Linked DNA regions of Homo sapiens. The protein of the gene in region 1 purifies or fractionates together with the protein of each later gene. This does not show direct contact. Each region holds a gene or a part of one and is shown in the gene's direction. Other genes may lie near its edges.

The links.
Region 2: the proteins of AAK1 (region 1) and QSER1 purify together in Homo sapiens (affinity purification with mass spectrometry, with the first as the bait; one large-scale study listed by BioGRID). This does not show direct contact.
Region 3: the proteins of AAK1 (region 1) and WNK2 purify together in Homo sapiens (affinity purification with mass spectrometry; one large-scale study listed by BioGRID and IntAct). This does not show direct contact.
Region 4: the proteins of AAK1 (region 1) and CAPZA1 purify together in Homo sapiens (affinity purification with mass spectrometry; one large-scale study listed by BioGRID and IntAct). This does not show direct contact.
Region 5: the proteins of AAK1 (region 1) and REPS2 purify together in Homo sapiens (affinity purification with mass spectrometry, with the first as the bait; one large-scale study listed by BioGRID). This does not show direct contact.
Region 6: the proteins of AAK1 (region 1) and TPP2 purify together in Homo sapiens (affinity purification with mass spectrometry; one large-scale study listed by BioGRID and IntAct). This does not show direct contact.
Region 7: the proteins of AAK1 (region 1) and PDHX purify together in Homo sapiens (affinity purification with mass spectrometry; one large-scale study listed by BioGRID and IntAct). This does not show direct contact.

What each region holds. Positions count from the first base shown.
Region 1 is NC_000002.12:69,458,740-69,462,239, reverse strand, and holds part of AAK1 (AP2-associated protein kinase 1), read left to right. Parts: 3' UTR 1-528; coding exon of another isoform or gene 529-573; 3' UTR 574-3,500.
Region 2 is NC_000011.10:32,934,311-32,937,810, forward strand, and holds part of QSER1 (glutamine and serine-rich protein 1), read left to right. Parts: coding exon 1-1,125; coding exon of another isoform or gene 1,126-1,249; intron 1,250-3,500. UniProt on the Homo sapiens protein: Plays an essential role in the protection and maintenance of transcriptional and developmental programs.
Region 3 is NC_000009.12:93,316,639-93,320,138, forward strand, and holds part of WNK2 (serine/threonine-protein kinase WNK2), read left to right. Parts: intron 1-881; coding exon 882-993; intron 994-1,234; coding exon of another isoform or gene 1,235-1,436; exon of another isoform or gene 1,437-2,570; intron 2,571-3,500. UniProt on the Homo sapiens protein: Serine/threonine-protein kinase component of the WNK2-SPAK/OSR1 kinase cascade, which plays an important role in the regulation of electrolyte homeostasis, cell signaling, survival, and proliferation.
Region 4 is NC_000001.11:112,650,832-112,654,331, forward strand, and holds part of CAPZA1 (F-actin-capping protein subunit alpha-1), read left to right. Parts: intron 1-1,756; exon of another isoform or gene 1,757-1,857; intron 1,858-2,766; coding exon 2,767-2,830; intron 2,831-3,500. UniProt on the Homo sapiens protein: F-actin-capping proteins bind in a Ca(2+)-independent manner to the fast growing ends of actin filaments (barbed end) thereby blocking the exchange of subunits at these ends.
Region 5 is NC_000023.11:17,149,158-17,152,657, forward strand, and holds part of REPS2 (ralBP1-associated Eps domain-containing protein 2), read left to right. Parts: 3' UTR 1-3,500. UniProt on the Homo sapiens protein: Involved in ligand-dependent receptor mediated endocytosis of the EGF and insulin receptors as part of the Ral signaling pathway. By controlling growth factor receptors endocytosis may regulate cell survival.
Region 6 is NC_000013.11:102,603,486-102,606,985, forward strand, and holds part of TPP2 (tripeptidyl-peptidase 2), read left to right. Parts: intron 1-1,307; coding exon 1,308-1,436; intron 1,437-3,500. UniProt on the Homo sapiens protein: Cytosolic tripeptidyl-peptidase that releases N-terminal tripeptides from polypeptides and is a component of the proteolytic cascade acting downstream of the 26S proteasome in the ubiquitin-proteasome pathway.
Region 7 is NC_000011.10:34,958,118-34,961,617, forward strand, and holds part of PDHX (pyruvate dehydrogenase protein X component, mitochondrial isoform 1 precursor), read left to right. Parts: intron 1-2,302; coding exon 2,303-2,401; intron 2,402-3,500.

The sequences.
Region 1 (3,500 bases):
CCGCCCCCCTCCCCCCACCCCACAACAGTCCCCAGAGTGTGATGTTCCCCTTACTGTGTCCATGTGTTCTCTTTGTTCAATTCCCACCTATGAGTGAGAACATGCGGTGTTTGGTTCAGAAATTCTTAAAGTAAGAGATCATTCTAATTCCCCTTTCCAAATATTCAGGATTATCTCTGTAACAGCCCAGCAAAATGTTTTTCCTTTGGTTATTTGATAATTCCCTTCTAATCAAGTGACTATTTTAATTCTCAAGGTGCAAATCAGGATAAAATCATGGTGATTTTACTACATAGTTGAATACTTCGTCAAGTATGAGCTTGTATCCTTTTTAAATTTTTCACTGGAGGCCAGGCGCGGTGGCTCACGCTTGTAATCCCAGCACTTTGGGAGGCCGAGGTGGGTGGATCACTTGAGGGTAGGAGTTTGAGACCAGCCTGGCCAACATGGTGAAACCCTGTCTCTACCAAAAATACAAAAAGTAGCTGGGCGTGATGGCACGCACCTGTAGTCCCAGTTACTAGGGAGGCTGAGGCAGAATTGCTTGACCCAGGGAGGCAGACTTTGCAGTGAGCCAAGATTGTGTCATTGCACTCCAGCCTGGGCGAGAAGAGCAAAACTCCGCCTCAAAAAAAAAAAAAAAATTGTCACTGGAGACATGATGGGTGGAGACTCTACATACCTTCTTTGAATACAGAAACGGATGCAAACACATGCAAATTACTTTTTTTTTTTTTTTTGGTGATGCATGAAAAAACTTTGACTTGTGGATTACATTAATTATTAGTAACAGTTAGATTCTGCCGACTTGTATTACAGTAGGGTCTTATTTCCTTAAAGAGAAAAAAAAATACAGTCATGCCCCACTTAATGATGAGGGAGACATTCAGAGAAATGCATCCTTAGGTGATTTTGTCATTGTGTGAACATCACAGAGTGTACTTAACACAAACCTAGATGGCACGGCCTACTACCTACCTAGGCTATATGGTCCAGCCTGTTGCTCCTGGGCTACAAACCTGTACAGCATGTTACTGTACTGAATACTGTAGGCAGTTGTAACACAATGGTAAGTATTTCTGTATCCAAACATTTTAGACATAGAAAAGGTACAGTAAAAATATGGTATAATCTTATGGGACCATCATGGTATATGTGGTCCATCATTGATGGAATCGTTTTTATGCAGCACATGACTGTATATAATCAACAAACAACTCTACTTTCTTGTTTTCGTTTGTTGTGTTTTTGCTTTACACATTTGATAGGGAACATAGAAGTTGTGACCTTTCATTTCAGTGGAAAGCATTGAGCCAGAATATATTTATTCCTAAACCATCGAGCCACACATGCATTGATGAACCCTGAAAGAATCCACAGTAATTGACTAACAGGCAGTACTGAATGAAAGATGTCATATGTGGTGAAAAATATTTAATATATCAGTTTCTTGGGCTCACATACAGCCCTTTAGTTCCAAGTGCTTGGTTAGATTAGAAAATGGGATGAACACAATTTGATGCTGAAGCAGCTGCTGAGCAGCACCCAGGGAGTCTAGGTCATACGCCCTATATTGTTTTCGGCCCACTTATTGTTGAGTTGAAAAGTCTCATATTTGTAGACTAGAGTGTATGTGTTTAGAGGCTCATGTTGTATCTGAGTTTTCTCTGGCAACTAAGATCTCTTTCTAAACGTTCTAGAAAGATACTGGTATCTTACTGGCCCATTATTTAGTAAGTTTTAGAATACATGTACATCAGTGTTTTCAACTGCTTGGTGGACATTTCACTGATGCATAATCAAAGTAGCAGATTATAATCATCAGAGTGATCTGACAAGGAAATTCTGTATTTGCTTCCATAAAGAAAAATAATCAAAACATATATCAGATATAATATATATGCAGTATATCACATAGGAAATTTTATTGTAGGAAATTAGAGAAGGATGCTACTCAATTCATTCTCTAGCAGGAAGAATACAGCTTAAAAATCACTTGGGTCCCTTTAATAAAGAAAAGTGTGATTCTGTGTTGTGTGTTTGGAACTGAAATTGGAGAACACGTGCCAGTCGACTGTGAAATGGTTGCTGGATAAAACCACAGATGTGGTTTTATCCGAGAAATGTGGGACTGAAATTATTTTGATGAGAGGTACATAAGAGAGCTGCAGAAAAGACTGTAGCTTCTGAGGAGGCAGGAGTACCTTGTTAATATCCAAACCACCCCTGAGTTCTAATGTTCCAACTCCACCTAAACGAGGAATTGGAAACTTTAAATGGAATTATCTAATTTAAATTCTTAGTTTTTTCTTTGTCTTTCTCAGCTGATACTTGTAGTTTTGTTTTGTTTTTTAACCACCAAGAACACTTGCAAGTTTGTTACTGAAAACATCACTAAAGGAAAAGAAGAGTTTCAAAATGCTTGAAAAGTAGTATGTGGTTGGGAATTGTTTTTGTTCAAGTCCCTGGAAGTCCTCTTGGCTTAGCTCCCTTGTTCCTGTTCCCACTTCATTTCCTTACTTAACATTCCCCTATTTTGAGCATGTCAATAAGTGCATGATGAATGGCACAGTTGAATGATCATGTTAACTTTAATTGCTTCCTTTGTTGCTGTAAACAGTTTCTTGTTAAGTTTCAGCCAAGTCTGTGACAATCTCACCAAATAAGAATGAAATGGGCGGGGTGTGGTGGCTCACACTTGGAATCCCAGCACTCTGGGAGGCTGTGTTGGGCCGATCGCTTGAGCTCATGAGTTCAAGACCAACCTGGGCAACATGGCAAAACCTTGTCTCTACAAAAAATACAAAAATTAGCCAGGCATGGTGGTGCACACCTGTAGTCCCAGCTACTTGGGAGGCTTAGGTGGGAGGATGGCTTGAGCACGGGAGGCAGAGGTTGCACTAAGCCAAGATCGTGTCACTGCACTCCAGCCCAGGCAATAGAGCCAGACCCTGTCTCAAAAAAACAAAACAAACAAAACATGAATGAATGAAATGGCTCACCTTCCCTATTATGAACTAGAAGAAAGGATGAAGGAAGGTTGGCAGGACCCCAGCCTTACTCTGTAGTGACAACCCAGAGGTACTTTTCCCGGAATGCAGGGTCAAGTTTATGTGTGAAGGGACTCTAGAATAGCTGGTAAAAATGGCTACATGGTAACCATTCTTGACTTAGTCCAGTATTCCCATAATTTGTAATTCCATAAATTTATTCTCAGCTGTCCCCCAGCCATTTCTAATAGAAGGATGTGTACCCCAGTTTTGACAATGTTCTTGAAATCAAGTTAGTGTTACCTGCATTGCATTATAATGGAACTATATGTACATGTTAAAGGGATCCGTTTGATTCCTTTCGGCAAGGAATTGCAAAAATAGTTTTTACCAATACCAGTTAAAATAGGATAGGTTAGACTTTGGGGGCAGGGTGAGACAGTGCAGCCTTTTCACTCTGAAATGGCAAATCAGCTGTACTCTTTGAGTCTACCAGAGATTCCTATTTGA
Region 2 (3,500 bases), on another chromosome or scaffold:
ATTTTCAGCAGTCATTAGATGTCAGGCATGTGACTTCAGATTTTAACTCTATGACAGCTACAGTAGGAAAGCCACAGAATATAAATGATACTTCCTTAAATGGAAATCAGGTTACTGTGAACCTTTCACCAGTACCTGCCCTTCAGTCAAAAATGACTCTTGATCAACAGCACATTGAAACACCTGGTCAAAATATACCAACTAAAGTAACTTCAGCAGTGGTTGGACCAAGTCATGAAGTCCAGGAGCAAAGTTCTGGCCCATTCAAGAAACAGTCTGCTACCAATCTTGAATCTGAAGAAGACAGTGAAGCTCCTGTTGATAGTACATTAAATAATAACAGAAACCAAGAGTTTGTTTCTAGTAGTAGAAGTATAAGTGGAGAGAATGCTACATCAGAGAGTGAATTTACCTTAGGGGGTGACGACAGTGGTGTGTCAATGAACCCAGCTAGGAGTGCACTTGCACTGTTGGCCATGGCCCAATCTGGGGATGCAGTCAGTGTCAAGATTGAAGAAGAAAACCAAGATTTAATGCATTTTAACCTTCAAAAGAAAAGAGCTAAAGGAAAAGGGCAAGTTAAAGAGGAAGACAACAGTAATCAGAAACAGCTGAAAAGACCTGCCCAAGGCAAACGCCAGAATCCAAGGGGAACAGATATTTACTTACCGTATACTCCTCCTTCCTCAGAAAGCTGCCATGATGGTTATCAGCATCAAGAAAAAATGAGACAGAAGATCAAAGAGGTGGAGGAAAAACAACCAGAAGTCAAAACAGGATTTATTGCTTCTTTCTTAGATTTTCTGAAATCCGGGCCCAAGCAGCAGTTTTCCACTCTTGCTGTACGAATGCCTAACAGGACTAGACGGCCAGGGACCCAGATGGTTCGTACATTTTGTCCCCCACCACTTCCCAAGCCTTCATCTACAACACCCACACCTTTAGTGTCTGAAACTGGCGGTAACAGTCCATCAGATAAAGTTGATAATGAACTTAAAAACTTGGAACATTTATCTTCATTTTCTTCTGATGAAGATGATCCTGGATATAGTCAAGATGCTTATAAAAGCGTCTCTACTCCCTTAACTACTTTGGATGCTACTTCTGATAAAAAGAAGAAAACAGGTAAAGTTTTACAATTTAGATTCATAATTATTACTTTCTTCTATTTTTCCAGCTATAGCCCACATTTTAAGCTTTTTTCACTTAAAGCAGGTCTGCAAGTACATTTTCAGGACAAAATGTATAGGTAGGTATCTTAAGGACTTATTTTTTAAATTTTTCTTGCCTATAGGAAAGGTCTATGTTTTAGGTTAAGTAGTTCTGCTTTTTCTTGGCTTTTTGCCAAAGGCAGCATAATCTGTACAGTATGCCATCTAATCTGAGACATCTTGAGGTAATTGAGGCACTGTATTGTGGGCATTGCTGTAGTATAAACCTGGTACATTTTCTTAGTTTGCCAATTTTATCTGAAGATTAACATTTTATTATTAAATATGGTTATGTTTAAATATGTTGCAATAGTCCAGGTGACAAATGATAGCTTTTTTCAGATGAGGCAACAGGGATGTTATAGAGTTAAAATCTGAACCATTAAATGTGGTTATGTGCAGCATGCACACTAATATAATTAAGATAAAACTTAAAAATTTTATGCTGGCTTCAGATTATATACCCAAATCTTTGGGTATGTGTTTCACTTTACTCTGTGGCTAAGGGAGCTTTAGAGGAAATTTTTTTTTTTATACTTTAAGTTTTAGGGTACATGTGCACAACGTGCAGGTTAGTTACATATGTATACATGTGCCATGTTGGTGGGCTGCACCCATAACTCGTTATTTAACATTAGGTATATCTCCTAATGCTGTCCCTCCCCCCTCCCTCCAGCCCACAACAGGCCCTGGTGTGTGATGTTCCCCTTCCTGTGCCCATGTGTTCTCATTGTTCAATTCCCACCTGAGTGAGAACACGTGGTGTTTGGTTTTTTGTCCTTGCAATAGTTTGCTGAGAATCATGGTTTCCAGCTTCATCCATGTCCCTACAAAGGACATGAACTCATCCTTTTTTATGGCTGCATAGTATTCCATGGTGTATATGTGCCACATTTTCTTAATCCAGTCTATCATTGTTGGACATTTGGCATATTTTAAGAAGCAATGACTTATGTAAACAATTGGCAGTAAGTATGGTATTTTCTATTGTAAGAAACATGCCAAGGAAAAATTTATTTGTAACAATAATATAACTACCACCTCTGTGCCAGGAACTAGTAGCAATGTTGTGAGATACACATTGTTATCTCCAATATACAGATGATATAACTGAGAATAAATGAATTATGTGGGCCCATACCTCTAGTAAGTGACAGAGCTGGAATCTGAACCCAGGTTTTTCTGGTTCTAGAGCCTACATTCTTTCTCAGCTCTTTAGGATAAATAGGGTGGTGCTTTAAGACTTAAACCTTGTTTTGTAACATACTTCCCAGCTTCTCTCTGGACTTGACTACCTTTAACTACTAAAGTGTTACGAGACAGCTGGTATCCAAATAACCTGTTAGCATAAATATCTGATAATACATTTCTAAAGAATTCTCATTTCATTACACAGGGAAATTAACATGATAGAAAGTCAGTCTCAGATTCAAAGACATTACTACCATGGATGTGTCTAATCCTAATATGGTTTTATAACGTCTCACCCAGTTCAGAGTGCTTTGCAATCGCTATTATATTCCCTCTTACATTCCCAGAATGAACCTTTTGAAATCTCTGTTCTAAAACATGAGTCTAAAACTAGTTTCTTCCAGAGATATGTTATCTCATTTTTAGTTAAAATCATCATCATAAACCCGATCCTTACTATTAGGTCTTTGAAGTTGTCTTATCACCATCCCTGTTGCCTCATCTGAAAAAAGCTATCATTTGTCACTTGGACTATTGCAACTGATTACTCATTACAGACTTTTCTTTTTTTTCTTTTTTTATTATTTTAAGAGACAGAGTCTTGCTCTGTCACCCAGGCTGGAGTACAGTGGTGTGATCTTGGCACATTGAAACCTCAAACTCCTGGGCCCAGGCAATCTTCCTTCCTCAGCCTCCTGAGCAACTGGGACTATAGGCACATGCCACCATGCCTGGCTAATTTTTTTTTAATCTGTTGTAGAGATGGGATCTTGCTGTATTGCCCAGGCTGGTCTTGAACTCCTGGCCTCGAGCAGTCCTCCCACCTTGGCCTCCCAAAGTGCTGGGATTATAGGCATGAGCCACTGCGCCTGGCCTAGAATTTTTTCTCGCCAGTCTCTATGCCAGTCCATCCTCCACATTGTCAACAGATTCAACTTTATAAAAAAGGAAAGCTGATTGTTACTTCTATTTCAAAACACCTCTGTGCTTCATGGGAAAAATAAAGATTATATGTAAAAATTCCTTTTTCCATGTTTTACTCTCTTTCCACTGTCCCTCTGCTGTGACAATTGAATTTTTCATTGTTTCTTGGATGTC
Region 3 (3,500 bases), on another chromosome or scaffold:
TGGTTTGTCCATTCTTGTGGGTTTTCTGCATACACAGTCTTGTCATCTGCATGAGGCCAGTTCTCCTTCTCTCTGTCCAGTCTGTGCGGTTGACTCCTTTTCCTCCCCGCCTGGAGATCCCCGTGGTGTCGACTGGAAGCATGGAGGCACCTTGGGGAGGTATTGGGCATTTTGTCGTGGGCAGGGGCTCAGCTGTCGGTTCCATAGAGGACCTTCCAGATAAGGAGGCCCCTCCAGCCCCTGACTGCCGAGCTTGATTTCCAGGAAGGGTTGTGGAAGTCACCGAGTGCCCTCCATGCACCTGTGAAGAGTGCCCAGTGGGGCCCTCCCTGGAGTGGAGAGGAGTGACTCCCCGTGGCCAGCAGCCTTGCCTTCCTGGGGCACACCCCGCATACAGCTTCTCCCCGGGCTGGGACAGTGGAAGGGCTGCCTTGCCATCACCTCCCTGCACACTTGCTTTGCCCAGGTCCTGGGGCTCTGCTCCTGCCAGCTCCTGGGTGGTTCATGCTCCTGTGAGGGCACTGACCAGCCAAGCAGGAGGGCTTTGTGGTGGCTGAGTAGAGGCATGTGGGGTCACTCATGCGCCCTCAGGGTCCAGGCCCCACTAGTCCTCCTCCAAGTCCCATTTTGGCTGGTGGACACCCAGGTGTGTGGCCTAGAGGCTATCAGGCTGCAGCTTGGGGAAGCAAACAAGGGAGGGTGATGGTTCCTGGCCCCACACCATCATTCTGGTGTCAGCCCTGAGAGGGTGCCTGTCACAGCAGGTTCCAGGACTGCTGCCTCCTGAGGATGGAGAAACTGTGGCACCCTGGGGGCCACTAAGGGAGGCCAGCTGATTGCAGCCACGTGTACCTTCCTCTTCTCGTCTCTGTGTTTTGTAGATGACCGCACCTCGAGCAGGAGTGGGGATGCCACGTCTGCCCCCAGCGCCCGGCCCTCTGTCCACCACGGTCATTCCCGGAGCCGCCCCGACCCTGTCCGTGCCCACACCAGGTACTGCCCTCTCCAACCTCCCAACCCCACCCTGTGCGCTGCCTCTGGGTCAGTACAGAGGCCTGCTCCCAGCTCCAGTGTCCTGGGGGCCCTGGGCAGGCCAGGTGGGCCAGCTGGGGGCACAGGGCAGCTGGAACACCCCCCAGGTGCCCGTGCTGCCAGTCTTCTTGCAGCCACCTGTGGTCAGCATGCCTGGCCCCCGGCTGCGGATCACGTAGCCTTCTGCCCTGTCCCTTGCCAGATGGCGCCCTCGGAACCGCCCGGAGAAACCAGGTGTGGTTTGGCCTCCGAGTCCCCCCCACCGCCTGCTGTGGGCACAGCACTCAGCCGCGAGGGGGACAGCGGGTGGGCAGCAAGACTGCTTCCTTTGCGGCTTCAGACCCTGTTCGCTCCTAGGTTCCTGTGGTCCACGCGCCGTCTCCACACCCACTTCCTATACTTGAGTTGATGGTTAGAACCTTGTCGTCACCCTGCAGAAGTACAGTGCCTTGAATGCCAGCTTTTCCGTTCCCTGATGAAAAGATATGTTAAAAAAAATTATCGGAAAAGGTTTCATTTGCAATTGGCTTGTGCATTGATAATCTTTATTTACTGTTTTAAGTTGCAGAGATGTGAATGGTTTACAAATCTGAAGCTGAAGTTCAATCTTTGGTTTTCTGTTGTAAATGCCTTTTACAAACATTGAATTAGCTACCTTAAGTATTGAAGAGCTTCCATTGCTAGGTGAGCCCTGCTTTGTCCTCAGTAGAGTGCCGGTTCCCTGGGCTCATCCAGGGGCTGAGAGACGGCGGGACGCTGGGGCAGGGCACACTGGCGGAGCTGCTTGCTCAGTAGGGAATGTCAGTTGTTGCGCTGGGCCATGAGAAATCCGCCAGAAAACGTTAGGTGAGCAGACATGCCCCCCATGCCAGTGGGCTGCTGTGAGTGAGGATAAGGTGTGTGTTGGGCATAGAAACCCTGGCTGCCCGCCCACCCTGTGGAGACAAGTGCAGCTCCTCCAGCTGGAGAGGCTGCCCTCTCTCCTGCCCACTTCCCTCCCTTCTCCATGATTTCCATGGAGACCTGTGGCTCTGCTCACCCCTGGCATGCAGACCGCTCTCCCGTCCAGCCCTAAGCCTGCTCTGCGGAGGGCGGGGTCATTCTTCTCCTGGAGATTTCAGTGGGACTCGTCCCCAGTGGGCACAACACAGCCCTTGGTGGGAGGGGAAGGCCCCAGCCTCCTCCACCTCCCACTGGAAAGCAGACTGCTTGGGACTGCCCAGCTGTGAATTGTATAGTTTCTGTACTTATTAGAACTGGGTAAATTATTTTGGTTCAAATCTATTATTCCATCAATTCAGTTAGAATTGAATTTTCTAGGTGATTATGCAGAATCTTCTGCCAGGGCACGATGCTGTCGTAAGAGATTTCTGTTCTCTGTACTGGGCCCCCTTGCCCTGTTCCTTGAGTGAAGTGGGGGCTGCCCTCACCTGTCCCCCTTGCCTGTGAATCCCTTCCTTGTACATGGTGGTCAGTGGCACGGAATCCCCAATAGATTGTATATCTGAAGGAGAAAAATAAACACTTTTGCTCGAAAACAGTGTGAAACAACATCTTTTTCTTACCCTCTATCCATATAAAATCCAAAGCAACCAGCCTCCTAGGGAGCACAGGAGTTGGGAGCCAGTTCTGGGCTCAGCTGCATCCACACCTCTGGAGGAGGGTGCTGAGGGGCTGCGGGTGCTGGGCTGGGCTGTCCCCGGCAGGGGTCTGAGAGCAGGGCATCTGGCAGGGCTGCCTGGCCCCCAACACTGCCCCCGCCAGCTGTGGCCTGGGCCCCGAGCACGGTCAGCTCTGCTGGTCGGGTTAGCTGGCTGGGCTGCCCACCACTCTGCACCTGATTACACTTAGCAGTGCCACGGGCTGTGACCATGATGGAGGGAGCCAGCCTCCTGGTCAGCGAGACACACCTGCAGCCCCTGTCTCCAGGAGGCTTGGTTTGCATTACTTGCTGCAGCCCCTGGGGCCACCCTCTTTGCTCCAGATGGGCCGAGCTCAGGGGAAGTGGGAGCTCCTCAGATGAGCTTGGACTTGTTGAGAGGAGGACTTGGGGCTGGGGTTGCCCATGGATCATGCAAGGGGCAGTGGCTTTTCTGGTAGGCACAGGGGCCTTAGGGAAGGTGGCCATCCAGGGTGGGGCCTCATCCTGTGGGACTCAGCGCATGGTGGCAGCCAGCCCCCCAGCATCCCACTAAAGACAGCCTCGAGCTGACTGTGGTCCCTCCTGCGTGTGCATTGCAGGCCTCACTGTGAGCAAGCTGAGGGTCCCAGTGTCTCCTGCCCGGTCCACTGTGGGGGCTGCCTTGGCTGTGGGGCCACCTCCTCAGAGAGCTGCAGTGCCAGCCTTCGAGCTTCTGCATGGAGGGAGGAGGAACACTCATCCCAGAGCCTCCTGTTTTGGGTGTTGGAGGGCAGCTCACTCCCCAGATGCTCCAGACGGTACAGGAGCAGAGCGTCTGTTTGGGTTT
Region 4 (3,500 bases), on another chromosome or scaffold:
GGCTAAGATTAAGAGAAGTTGGTATGTAGTTCAGATACTTCATTTTCTTTAATTGCACTGACACTAAAGCTTTGTATTTATAACTATTCTGGTTCTTATAGACTATAGGTTCTTGGGGAACCCTCTTGTTAAGAGAATTTTCCTGGACCCAAATATTTGATTTTCCATAGAGAAGAAAAATTCAGTTTTATTTCTGTATTAAAGCATTTCAGTCCCTTGGCCATAGTCCTCATAGTAACTGCTCAATTAATGTTTTCATAATCATTGTCATAATTATTGCCTTCAGTCTGTATAAAATGAAGGGCTTGAAGTAGCTAAGATTTACCATCTTTCCTGGATTTCCACCAGTTTCTGGCCACCAGAACCATCCCCAGATAATTCCAGCGCTTCTGGAATAAATAGGGTGTTGTAAGTTATGTTAAAGAGTGAATTTCATTCTGACAGAGATAGGAAGTAAGATTGTTTTGAGTAGAGAATAACATAATGAGACTTATATTTTAGAATAATCACTAGCTCCTGTGTAGAGGGGCAAAAGCTGAGGTAAGATGAGTAATTCCAAGACAATGAGAATAGTTCAGGGATAGATGCTACTGGTTGGACTAGAGTGGTAGCAGTGGGGGTGGTGGGAAGAAGTCAGATTCTGAATATGTACTTAAGTAGAGCCTACAAGATTTACTGATGGACTGGATGTGAAGTGTGAGAAAAAGAGAAGAATCAAAGATCACCCCAAGTTTTTGGCTTAGGCAGCTGGTAAAATGGAGATGCTGTTTACTTGAGATGGAATTAAAGGTAAGGACATTTTGGTGTTGGTGTTGGTAATCTATAGTCTTAGGACATATACTAGAATAAAATATTTACTTCCTACTCGTTTTTTTTTAAACTAACATTTATTCTACTTTTTATGAATAAATTGTATCCTTTCTGAAGAGCTAATGTGTTTGGGATTAATTTTGCTACATGGGGATGTGGTGTTTTAAGGAGTAAAACACAGTAATAACTTTTGGCTGGGTGTGGTGGCTCACACCTGTAATCCCAGCACTTTGGGAGGCCAAAGTGGGTGGATCACCTGAGGTCAGGAGTTCGAGACCAGCCTGGCCAACATGGTGAGACTCCCCCCGATCTCTAAAGAAAATACAGAAATTAGCTGGGTGTGGTGGTGCGCATCTGTAATCCCAGTTACTTGGGAGGCTGAGGCAGGAGAATCACTTGAATCCGGAAGGCAGAGGTTGCGGTAAGCCAAGATCGTACCACAGCACTCTAGCCTGGGCAACAGAGTGAGACTGCATCACCCCCACCCCCCAAAAAAATAAATACACAAAGTATACAGTAACAACTTTTAACAAAATAAGATTGAAAATTAGCTTTAGAGGCTGGGCACGGTGGTTCATGCCTGTAATCCCAGCACTTTGGGAGGCTGAGGTGGGCGGATCACCTGAGGTTGGAAGTTCGAGACTAGCCTGACCAACATAGAGAAACCCAGTCTCTACTAAATATACAGAAATTAGCTGGGCATGGTGGCACATGGTAATCCCAGCTACTCTGGAGGCTGAGGCAGGAGAATCGCTTGAACCCGGGAAGTGGAGGTTGTGGTGAGCCAAGATCACACCATTGCACTCCAGCCTGGGCAACAAGAGCTAAACTCCATCTCAAAAAAAAAAAAAAAAAGCTTTAAATATTTGAAGAAGTTTAAATGTTTGTTACTTTGCTTTATCTTGAGAAGCCTAGTTTTAACCACTGCTTAAAACTAGTGGTCTCCATCCTTTTGTAGTTCATAAGTGTGATGGTTGAGTTTTCACATGCATGTGTGAGATGTGCCTCCCTCAAACCTTGTTATGTTGGCACATTACCTGTCTGACATGGGGAAAAAAAAAAACTAGCAGTCTATTTTAATAGGTTAAAATTGGGAATTCTGTGAGAAGACTGATACTTTTTAAGAATATAAGTGTAGCTCTTATTTCCATCTTTCTTTTATCTTGTCTTTTGCTTTAGCTTTGTAAAATGTATTAGAGAGCCATTAAAAATGCAGAATTTCAAAAATCAAGCTTTGGACAAATAGTAATATTAGGCATGTACTTTGATTATTTATGCATTCCTCTTTTAAAAATAACTACTTTGTGCCTGAGGCTCTACTTTTATACTTGACTCATGCTCAACTCTCACTTCACCTTCTTCGCATGTCAGATGCCTTCTGACATTTAATTATAGTTTCTCGTGACTTTGAGAGCCAAGAAAAAAGATCATTTCCAAAATAGTGTATCAATGGAGGATTCTTTTGAATTACTGAAAGCTTCTGCCCAAATGATTAAAATTGTTGGCAGTTCACAATAATTAGATTGCTTCAAACTTTGGAATTAGCCGAGTGTGGTGGTGTGCACCTGTAGTCCCAGCTACTCAGGAAACAGATGGGAAGATCTCTTGAGCCCAGGAGTTTGAGGCCAGCCTGGCAACGTAGTGAGACTCTATCTCAAAACAAACCAACTTTGGAATTGTCTAAGCAGAAGGTCTTTTGGAGCTCAGGAGCAGAGAGGAAAAGGTAATTTCAGAGTTTAAGGAGCTTCCAAGATCTCCGTAGAGAGGAGTCCCTTCAGAAAGCTGGAAGGCATTATGTTAACACTGGATGTCTGGGGAGAAGGGAAAAGTACAGGGTACTATTTTCACATTTCCTTTCACTATTCTGTGAACCACCTTTTGTGTTTATTTACACATAATTCTTTTCTCTCTCCCTCTTTTTTTTTTTTTTTTTAAAAAACTTTTAAAAAAAAACAGTGCATTTGCCCAGTATAACATGGATCAGTTCACGCCTGTGAAGATAGAAGGATATGAAGATCAGGTAATAATTGCCTTTTAGACAGGCTATGCCTGGCAGATAGTAGAGATCCTATTAATGGAAACCAAAGCAGATGTCTGAACCAGGTGCTGAATAAATTTGTCTTAGTTTTTATAGTTTTTGTGTGTACTGTACGTGTTAGGATATTCTTCTCTTTCTCATAACACTAGCAGTTTCTTTGACAAGAAAGGAGAGCAGCCTCTTAACAAGAACAGTGAAAATGGAAGTATTTAAGTTTTACAGGTTTTCCAGCTGTCTTTAATTCTCCTTGATAAGAGTAACAACAGACATTATATTTAATGGAAAAACAGAGGCGTTCCTCCTGAAATTTAGACTACTTATTTATTACTTTAGGATTTTGGTGGTTGGGAAATGGGATGAGAAAACAGTTCACTTTGTGTATTTTTTCATTTTTGAACCATGTGAATGTATTACCTATTTTAAATGCTAAGTGTAATGGCCCTAAAGTTTCATAATGACTCTGGAAAAATATGTGAAAAAAATACAAAAGTGTACATAAAAGTTATTACAGCTATGTATAAAGTACATATATAGTTATGTATAAGTATATATTAGAAACCAAGAAATGAATATTATTAGTATGGGGGATATTTTGTAGTTTAAAGTTGACTTATTCATAAATACAATATTCTTAATAATACGGGACTTGGTT
Region 5 (3,500 bases), on another chromosome or scaffold:
CCCATTTGCTGCCTTTTTTGTTTTTGTGGGGGAAGGGTTGGGAGTAAGTTTAAACTCTTCCGAAGATTATGAATGGGTCAGCACAAATTTTTAGGCAACTGCTTTTTCCATGTTCTGAGATCTACGGGCTACAACAAATTTTATCAGCAGTGTTTTTTGTTTTTTTGAGATGGAGACTTGCTCTGTCGCCCAGGCTGGAGCGCAGTGGCGCAATCTCGGCTCACTGCAACCTCCACCTCCTGGGTTCAAGCAATTCTTGTGCCTCAGCCTCCCGAGTAGCTGGGATTACAGGCACCCACCACCACGCTCAGCTAATTTTTGTATTTTTAGTAGAGATGGGATTTTGTCATGTTGGCTAGGCTAGTCTCGAATTCCTGACCTCAAGTGATCCACCCGCCTTGGCCTCTCGAAGTGCTGGGATTACAGGCGTGAGCCACCCGCCCGGCTATCAGCACTGTTCTGATTGCAGACGTTTCACAGCATGTTTGGCTTTTGGTAAATTCAATCCAGGAAAGACTAGCATGTGCACTTTATCTCATAATCTTCCAGTACATATGCTCTCAGTTGGGATAGCAGTTCATTTCCATTAGGCAGACGTATAAACTAAGGAATGTTAGTCTGCAGTATTCATTTTAAAAATATTGACATGCTTTTCCCCTCCCCTCCATGAAGTCAGTGCCAGAGTGAGCCAGATTGGGAGGTTGGGGTTTTGTTTGGTTGGCTTGGTTTTCATTAAGGGAAAAAACTTGCATTGGACAATCAAATTCCCCTGAGTTTCATAATCTCATCAATATTTTAAGATAGGCGAGCACACACTAATAATATCTATGCCTACCTTCTTGGGTGGACTCAACTGTAACCACAGTTTATTAGTTGCTTAGAAGTGGATTTTTAAAAAACAGTTAAATGTGTGTGCATAACACACAAGTAATGACACACTACTATTATTATTACCTAAGTAGTGCTCATCCTCTCTTTCTGTGTTTTCTTAGGATGTGCACTTTAATTTAGGATTGTAACGCCTAATAATATTTCTGTGAGCCTTTAATGTGATTTATAAGATGGCCGAATTACTGAAATCACCATTATACCTCTTCCATAAAACGACTCCAAAGTTAGACCTGCCTGTTGGGGAGAATTCTATAGACAGAAGGTCAATGTTGTCCCCATCCATAGGGGTTGAATTACCTTGCTGTTAAGTGGTCTTCCCCCATTGGGATCCTACAGTCCCACAGATGAAAGCACAGTAGTAGCTGACAGCTGGCTTATTTGGTCCCTCGGCATCTCTCGTATGTGGCATATTGCTTTTGCCACTTTCCTATCCAGCAGACATCAAAGCAAAACTAAAAGGTAGATATCTGGAATGAATGTATATGTTGTAATTGAGGCAGATATTTGCCTTAATTGGAAGGATCTAACTGCTTTACAAATATTAAACAAGTGCTTGGGCATGATTGGGAGAGGAGGCAGCTTAGCTGGAAGCTGTGCCCATCTTACTGTCACTGGAGAATAGGATGTCAGAGCTGGGCAGGACTGGTACCCATCATTTGCAGTTTGCATGTGGGGAAACCAAAGCCCTAAGAAACAACAGTTCCTGGCCCAAAAAATCCATAGAAAGAGGTAACTAGTGGCAGATTTGGGGCGCCAACCTGATTTTATGGATTTTGAGTTAGATTCTCTACCCTCTATCAATACTAAAAATAGATTAGGAGGGTTTTTTTTTCTGTTTATCATGTTGAATTTCATTGACTTAATTAGTCTTTAAATTTGAAAACATGTTTTAGGGAGTTTAGTTCTAGAAATTTCTCTTAGATTGAAGTGACAGAATCTGAAAGAAAAGAATATGATTGAGCTATTTGTTTTCCTGAACACCTCACCTTTTATGATGCAATAAGTTACTCTGAGTTTCTTGGCAGAGTTTTTGACAGCTGTTGCTTTCAATGGATTCCATTCCTGTATTCCTTATGGGAGGTTGTTTTTAAAATAGACTACTGCGATTGAAATGAACTCAATATGTAGTTAAGTTATAGTTTTCTTCAATGTATTTTTAGTTACTTGGGTCACAAATGTTCAATTTCAGCATATTTTAGGGTGAGTAATCAAAAATGTGAATTTGCCTTTGATTTCCTACCACTGTCTGAGCTATCATAAAGCATTCTCTTTAGTTGTGATTTGATTCTATAGTCTGTTTCTAAATGACATTTGTCTGTTTCTTAAATGATCTCACAGCCATGGTAATAATAGATGTGTACTCAGAAGATCAATAAGGTAATATTGGAATTCATGTGTTTTTTGCAATTAAGGCAGGCATTTGCCAATGTCTTCTTTTAAGCAGTAGTTGGAAACATCTCAATTACAGTGTAACACCTTAGAGCTAAAAACATTTGTTCAACACAAACTAGAATCACACCTTCTCACTAGATATCACCAAGGGAATGTGGTTTTAAAAATAAAAAGAAAACAATATAACGTATCATGGCAACCAGAGCTTCCCATATTATTGACAAGTAGGGATCATTAGGTTCTGGTTTGAACATTCTGAATGTGAACAAAATGAAATAGTAGTTAAGAGGTGTTTTCCCACTGTGTTTAAAGAGAACACTAGTAATTCTGGTTTTTCTTTCTAACTGCTTTACTGTTTCAAGGGTATTCTTTTAAAACTCTGATTTCAAAGGATCAGTTGAATTTATACTTTAGTTATGGGTGTTTTGTTACTTTTTTTTTTTTTGTATCATGACTCAGTATGGTTCAATTTCCTAGTAAGAAGTGGGGATTTGTGTTTTTGGAGTCCTCAGCTCACATGTCTTGTTCCTCCTTCAGCACAAGCTAGGGGAGATCCTACCAACACTGATAGGTCAGTCATTGATGGCAATTTGAATGTGGGTATTACTCTGTGAGCCACCCTGCTTCGCTTGTTTGTAAGGAGAAATGCATCTGGTTATGTGAATTTCCCGAGAGCAGCAGACATGGAGGGCCAGACTTTAAAAGCAACGCAAGCAGATTCGAAGAGCTGTTGCCCTCTTCTAAAAAAGGCTTTTGGAGGCTGTGTTACATGCATGCCCTAAAGCAGTCAGTCTGTTAGTATGAGCAAGACATCTGAAGTACACAGTTGCTTTTAGGCTTGTATAGTTATTTTCTACACATGCCAACACACATGATGATAAAGGAACCTTTTCTAGGAGGCATTGCAGGGTTTCAATACACAGGACATGTTCTAGTTACAGAAGCCTTGCTCTGCTGTCAACAATTGGGAAATGCTCATTTTTTCATGTTTTGTGAATACTCTGGTCTTGCTGTAAGCTAATGTCATGGCTGTGGGATATTAGAGAAGTGGGTTTATGACTCTGAAGACCAGCAGACACCAGACTTTAAAAGTGCTTAAATTGGAATTTGGAAACTACAGTAAAGAAACCTTCAGATACCAGTTCCATCCTGAAGCCCTCTGTTGAACAACAGGGCCAGATCCTAAAGCTCTTTCAGGGAGCTCTTCTCTGGGGCTG
Region 6 (3,500 bases), on another chromosome or scaffold:
TGGAACAACTGAAGAGATAAAGAATTCTAGGCAGAAGGAACCTGTTTAAAAAGTCATGAGGCAGGAAAAAGTTTGGCATGTTTCAGGAATTGAAAGGAGGTTGGCGTGGTTAGACTCCTGAGTAACGGGGTGGCAGGGGTCAGATGGTGCGAGGCTTTTTATGCGAGTATTCTGAGTGCTCCATGAATACATTGATGGGCTTAAAGGAGAGGACTGATAAAATACAGCTTGTTTTAATACAGGTTGAGTATCGCAAATTCGAAAGTCTCCAATGAACATGTCCTTTGAACTTCATGTCCATGATTTTGGAGCATTTGGAATTTTCAGGTTAGGGTCACTCAGCCTGTATTACTTTTGATGGGGCCAAGAGTGGAAACTGAGGGACCACTTAGGTAATTCACCTCATGGAGGCAAGAGATGGTGGTGGTTTGGAAAGTTAGGATAGTGGTAGTGAAAATGCAATGGATTTGAGCTCTCTTCTAGACAAAGAATTAACAGGATTTCCTGTTAGCTTCGCTGTGAGGAGTCAACTGAAGTAAAGAATCAGAGGAGGATTGTTAAGTTTCCAGTGTGAACAGCTGGGCGTGGGGATTCCTGGGATGGCAAAGCCTGGAGAAAATCAGGTGGTGGGGGGCATGTTAAGCTTGAACTTTGTTGCGTTTGAGGTGCTAGTGTGGCATCCAATAATGGTGCCATTAAATGGTACCATTACTACTAAACATTTTTTCCCCCTAAAGCTCTAAACTTGTCCAGCCCACAGCTCACCATCTTTAGATCTTTTCTCAAATGTTACCATCTCAGCAAGGCCTTCCTTGACCAGCCAAACTTATGTTGAAAACCCCACACTGACCATCTCCCTTCCCTGCTTAATTTTTCTCCATAGTTAATTTTCACCATCTGACATGTTCTTTTTTTTCCCTAATACCCAGTGTGATAGCACATCTGACATGTTCTTTATTTTACTTTGTTATTAACTGAACTGCTTTCTCGCTATAAGATCGTCAGGGATTTTTGCGTATGGATCACTGCCATATCCCCAGCACCTAAAATAGGGTGTGGTCTATAGTAAATGCTCAGTAAATATTTGTTTATTGAATATATGAAACGACTTGAAGGATTCTGTAGTGTTTCCACGATTAAATTTTCTTACTAGTATTTGTTCAGGCTTTTGGCTTAAAACAGTTCAGTTCTCTTTTTTAAGTGAATGTAGATTTTGTATATACACACACATATATATGTGGATTTGCATTGTTTAGGAATAAAAACCTAAAATCTACCATTCATATTTTAATTTTCTTAATTTTCAGGTTACAACTGATGGAAAACCAAAAATCGTTGATATCATTGATACAACAGGAAGTGGCGATGTGAATACTGCTACAGAAGTAGAGCCAAAGGATGGTGAGATTGTTGGCCTTTCAGGAAGAGTGCTTAAGGTGAGACCTTTTGTCTTCTTTTTGAATTTTTTTTTTTTTACTCTTGCCTCAAAGCATCTAATGTTTTTACCTTACATTTGGTGGTGGTATTAGTTATCCATTGCCACATATCAGATTACCTCAGAACATCCTGGTTTAAAATGACAAATATTTATTACCTCGGAGTTTCTGTGAGTCAGGAATCTGGGTGTGGCTTAACGGGGTTCCAGTCGCCCTGGAGGTTGCAAATGGTTAGCCATGGCTGTGACTTCAGCTGAAGGCTCAGCTTGGGAGAAGAAGGGGAAGTTTGTTTCCAAGCCTACTGGTGGGTCACTGGCAGGCCTTGGCTCCTTGCCATTGGGCCTCTCCGCAGTGCTGCAGTACCTGGCAGCACCTTCCCTGGGGGAGTGAGCCGAGAGAGTCCCCACGATGAAAGCCACAGGCTTTTTATAAAAGTGACCTTCTAAGGGACCACCTATCACTTGACTATATTGAGCTCATTGGAAGTGAGTTAATAAATCTAGCACACACTTAAGGGGAAGGGATTTCACAAGAAATGAATCATTGGAGCTGTCTTAGAAGAAGCCATTATTTTGTTGTTTGATGAGGTAATTAGAATTGGGCGGTATTTTTCAGTGAGCTTGCCAAATTTTATGTTTTGAATACAAAGATAGAGAAAGTAACCACATCATAGCTTTGCCTTCATGTTTTACTGTCCCTTCATAGTATTCCCAGTTAACTTGACCATGAAGAAATACTTAGGCTATAGTAGCTGTTAACTTAAATGGCCAGCTTTGTCTTTTTTTTTTTTTTAAACTTCTTTTTTTCTTTTTTTTTTCGAGACATAGAGTCTTGCTCCGTTGCTCAGGCTAGAGTGCAGTGGTGCAATCTTGGCTCACTGCAACCTCCGCCTCCCGGGTTCTAGCAATTCTCCTGCCTCAGCCTCCCAATTAGCTGGGATTACAGGTGCCCGCCACCACGTCCAGCTAATTTTTGTATGATTAGTAGAGACAGGGTTTCACCATTTTGGCTAGGCTGGTCTCGAACTCTTGACCTTGTGATCCGCCTGTCTCAGCCTCCCAAAGTGCTGGGATTATAGGCGTGAGCCAGGGCACTCGGCCTACCAGCTTTGTCTTATTCTATGTCCTTGGTAGAAAGGCCTGGGTAAGCTAAACGTAAAAAATAATTATAAAGCAAGCACAGAGGAGCTCATGAGCTAAGGAGCATGAAGGATGGATGGCAAGAATTTGTGATCCTGTACTCTTAAGCAGCATTAGTTTGGAACATAAAATTATGGTTATTTAGTTAGCTTTTCCCACCTTTTGCCATCTATCTGAATTGTTCTTAGGTCTTGTCTTTTAAGTAAGCTTGTTGTGGCAGCATATTGGCTTTCTGTGCCGTGTAATAAAGCACCACAGACTTAGCCGCCTAAAACCTTGTGTATTCCTGTATTTATTATATCACTGATTCCATGGGGTAGGAGTCCAGGCATGGCTTTTTGTGGGTCTCTGCTCAGGGTCTCACAAGACTGCAGTCAAGATTAAAGGCTCAGCTGAGGCTCAGGCTTCTTTTCCAAGTTTACATGATTGTTGGAAAAATTCATTTCATTGCAGCTGTAAAACTCATGATAGCTTGCTTCTTCAAGGCCAGTAAGAGAATCTCTGACCTTGGTGATGACCCCAGTCTTTCTTTTAAAGAACTCACCTGATTAGTTCAGGCCCGCTGAGAATCATGTCACTTTTGATTTGCTCAGAGTCCTTAATTGCGTCTGCAAAATCCCTACACCTTCTTTACGTACCATAACGCAATCATGGGAGTGACATCTCATTATATTCACGGGTCCTGCCTTCACTTAGGGGAGGGACGTGGGTCTTCTTAGAAATCTGCCTGTCATGGGCAGATAGCAGCCATTAATAATCCAGGTTCTACTTCCTTTTCTGTGTGTTAGGAACTGATTATCTGTGTCCCCACCCCCTGCCAAAATTCATACATTGAAGCCCTATCCCTCTTTGTGTTGGTATTTGAAAGTTGGGCCTTTGGGAGGTATTTAGGGTTAGATGAGGTTATGAGTATGTGTCCCCTCAG
Region 7 (3,500 bases), on another chromosome or scaffold:
TGCTTTAATAGAAGAACTCTGTAAATTCTAACATTTCATTTATTTAGTATTCTATATAATTATACAACATTACTTTTTCTTTACGAGAAAAAGATCTTCATAAAGTAGACCTCTTCATTCTTAAACATTTTTTCCTTTAGTTTATCATTGTCAGAAAAGAATCCACAGTGCTTTTTTTAGGGGGGGGCGTGCGGAGGTGGGTGACGGAGTTTTGATCTCATTGTCCAGGCTGGAGTGCAATGGTGCAATCTCAGCTTACCGCAACCTCGGTCTTCTGGGTTCAAGCGATTCTCCTGCCTCAGCCTCCTGAGTAGCTGGAATTACAGGCATGTGCCACCATGCCTGGCTAATTTTTTTGTATTTTTGGTAGAGATGGAGTTTCTCCATGTTGGCCAGGCTGGTCTCGAACTCCTGACTTCATGATCCGCCTGCCTCGGCCTCCCAAAGTGCTGGGATTACAGGCGTGAGCCACTGCGCCTGGCCTGCTTTTTGAAGTACTGATTTTAAATTCCTAGTGCAGTGTTTCTGACTCTGTTGCCTTGACTCCCATTTACTGTCTCCTCTTTCATTTACCCTAAAAATTGGAAGACAGTCTCACTGATGCTTTCTAACTAATGGTCTTCTGCCCTTGCAAAGATAATAATAGTATGTACCCTAATTAAGATCAGTCATCATCAGAGACTCGCATGAATCAGGCCCCACTGTGTAGGTTAAAAACCTACTGACCTGTGAACTCTGCATACTGTTGGGCACACAGTGAATGAAAAAAAAATTTTTTTTTGGTTGGTTGGTTACTAATCCTATATAAAAATCTAAAATTTCAGATTCTCTTGAAAAATCTAAAGATTTAGTAACATTGGGCCCATATCAGAGTTATTTAATACTTCCCTGAAATGCAGCAAGTTCCACAGTTGTTTCTGTCTCTTAGCTTTAATTTCTAGATCCAGCCTGTTTTAATCTGTACTAATCAGGCTTATTTTCTTTATCTGACCATGTAGTAATTTGTTTACTACTTTGCATACAAGAGATATACCATTAGTCATGTAATCTGAGGTATCCTATATATATAATAAATATATATAATTGTGTATACATACAATTCAACCTCAGCAAAACAACCCAATTAAAAAACAGGTGAAGAACTTTAATAGCATTTCTCCCAAGAAGATACATAGATGGCCAGCAGGCACATGAAAAATATGTTCACCGTCACTAACCATTAGGGAAATGAAAATCAAAACCACAATGAGACACCCCTTCATACCCTTCAGGATGGCTAGTATCAAAACAAACAAACAAACAAAAACCAAACCAGACCCAGATTATAACAAGTGTTGGCAAGGACATGGATAATTTGGAACCCTTGTTGTTGCCTAGTGGAAGTGTAAAATGCTGCAGCTACTGTGGAAAACAGTATGGCAGTTTCTTAGAAAATTAAAATTACCATATCATCTAGTAGGTCCACTTCCAGATATATATGCAAAATAACTGAAAGCAAAGACTGGAAAGAGATATTTGTACATCTATGTTCATAGCAACATTATTCACAGTAGCAAAATGGTAGAAACAACTCATAAGTCCAAAATGCTATGAAATGTGATTCAGCTTTTTAGGAAGGAAATTCTGATAAATGCTGCATGGATAAACCTTGAGAATATTATGCTCAGTAAAATAAGCCAGTCACAAAACAAATAACTGTATGATTCTACTTATGTGAGTTACCTAGAGTAGTCAAATTGACAGAGACAAAGAGAATGGTTACCAGGGGTTGGGAGGAAGGAGGAATGGAGAGTTACTGTTTAATAGATACAGAGTTTCAATTTGGAAAGATGAACATTTCTGGAGATAGATGGTGGTGATGGTTGCACAATAGTGTGATTGTACTAAATGCCACTCAGTTGTACACCTAAAAATGCTTAAAATGATAAATTTTAGGTATCATTTGCCACAATACAAAATATATGAAGAAATGATAGAACAAAATATACGAAGGAAACAATTGGTAGTTGTGATGAGCACCCATGTGAAAGTAATTAGTTGAAATAGCAGCTCTTTCCCCTAATTAATATTTATTCTTATTAAAATCATATTTAGAAATAGTAACTAAATTTTTACGAAAGTGTTTAAAGAATAAAATAAACCAAATTGGTACAGATTATTTGACTGTGACCATCTGTGGGAGTCATTTTAGCTTTATTATAAGATTTTTTTTTAATTATTTGCGAAACTGTTGACATTTAGATCTATTTGAATCAAATGTAAGTGTTAATTGGTTCTATTAACCTTCATATTTTTTTCTTAGGTTCCGTTTAAGTCCAGCTGCCCGCAATATTCTGGAAAAACACTCACTGGATGCTAGCCAGGGCACAGCCACTGGCCCTCGGGGGATATTCACTAAAGAGTATGTGTTTGCTTTTTGTAATAACCAGTTCCATTATTTATTATGATCATGTTTTTTTGAAAGAAAATAAAAAGAGCTTATTCAGTCTTAAGATTTAAAAGGAGGTACACTGTTCTTCTTTTGTACTTTTAATTGCTTTTATCATTGTAAATTGTATTCTATGCAAGAGTTGTTTTCTGAATAATTATAGCATTACTGAAGAACAGCTCTAATTTGGTAACTAAGCAAGATCCTTAGAAGTGGTAATAAATGCAGAAAATTAGAGCGTAGAACAGTGAAACTTTATACAGTATTAAATATGTGAAATCATGCAATAACATTTACATTTCTAAAACAAGGAAATATATTTTTAAAAAATTATTTTCATTATCCCTTTGAATTTTATTCACTTGTGCTGTTATAAAGCAATTTCCATATACAGTTTGGTCTCTTTTTAGATTTTCTTTTCTATTTCACTGATCCATCTGTCCATGAGTTAGTACCATACTTTTTTAGTACCACACTTTTAATTAGAAATGTTTTATTGTATGCTTTAAAATCTGATAACAATAGCTTTGCTCTTTTTTTAAATCAGTTTTCTTAGTTCATTCTTATTTTATTATTCTTCCAAATGAATTTTAAGCAGTTCGTCTAGCTCCATGGGTAGGAGTGAGGGGTATTTTTATGGGATTGTATCACATTTTAAATTAACTTTGTGAGAACTGACATCTTTATCATGATGGGTCTTTCTGTTCTGCAACACTGGTTTAAATGTTTGTGTCTTTCCATTAGTTTAAATGTTTGTGTCTTTCAAAACAGATGGCCCCTGTTCTGTTGAAACTTAGTCTAGTAGGGTAGACAAAGATTAATCAAATAGGCTTATGAACTAATGTAAGATTTCAGTAGTGTTATGTGCTACATTTTTATTGGCAGTAATAGTAAATGTTTCAAATTGAGTTTATGTTTTAAAGCAATGTACTCATTCCATATTTATCTAATATTGATAGGAAATAAAAAATAATATTGGCCAGAATTTTTGTAAGTCGAGAGAGAGCAATGGTTGTTAAATTATAAGTGGCAGTGTTGGGCCAGGCAATGTTTTCTTTTTTCCACTGGGTTA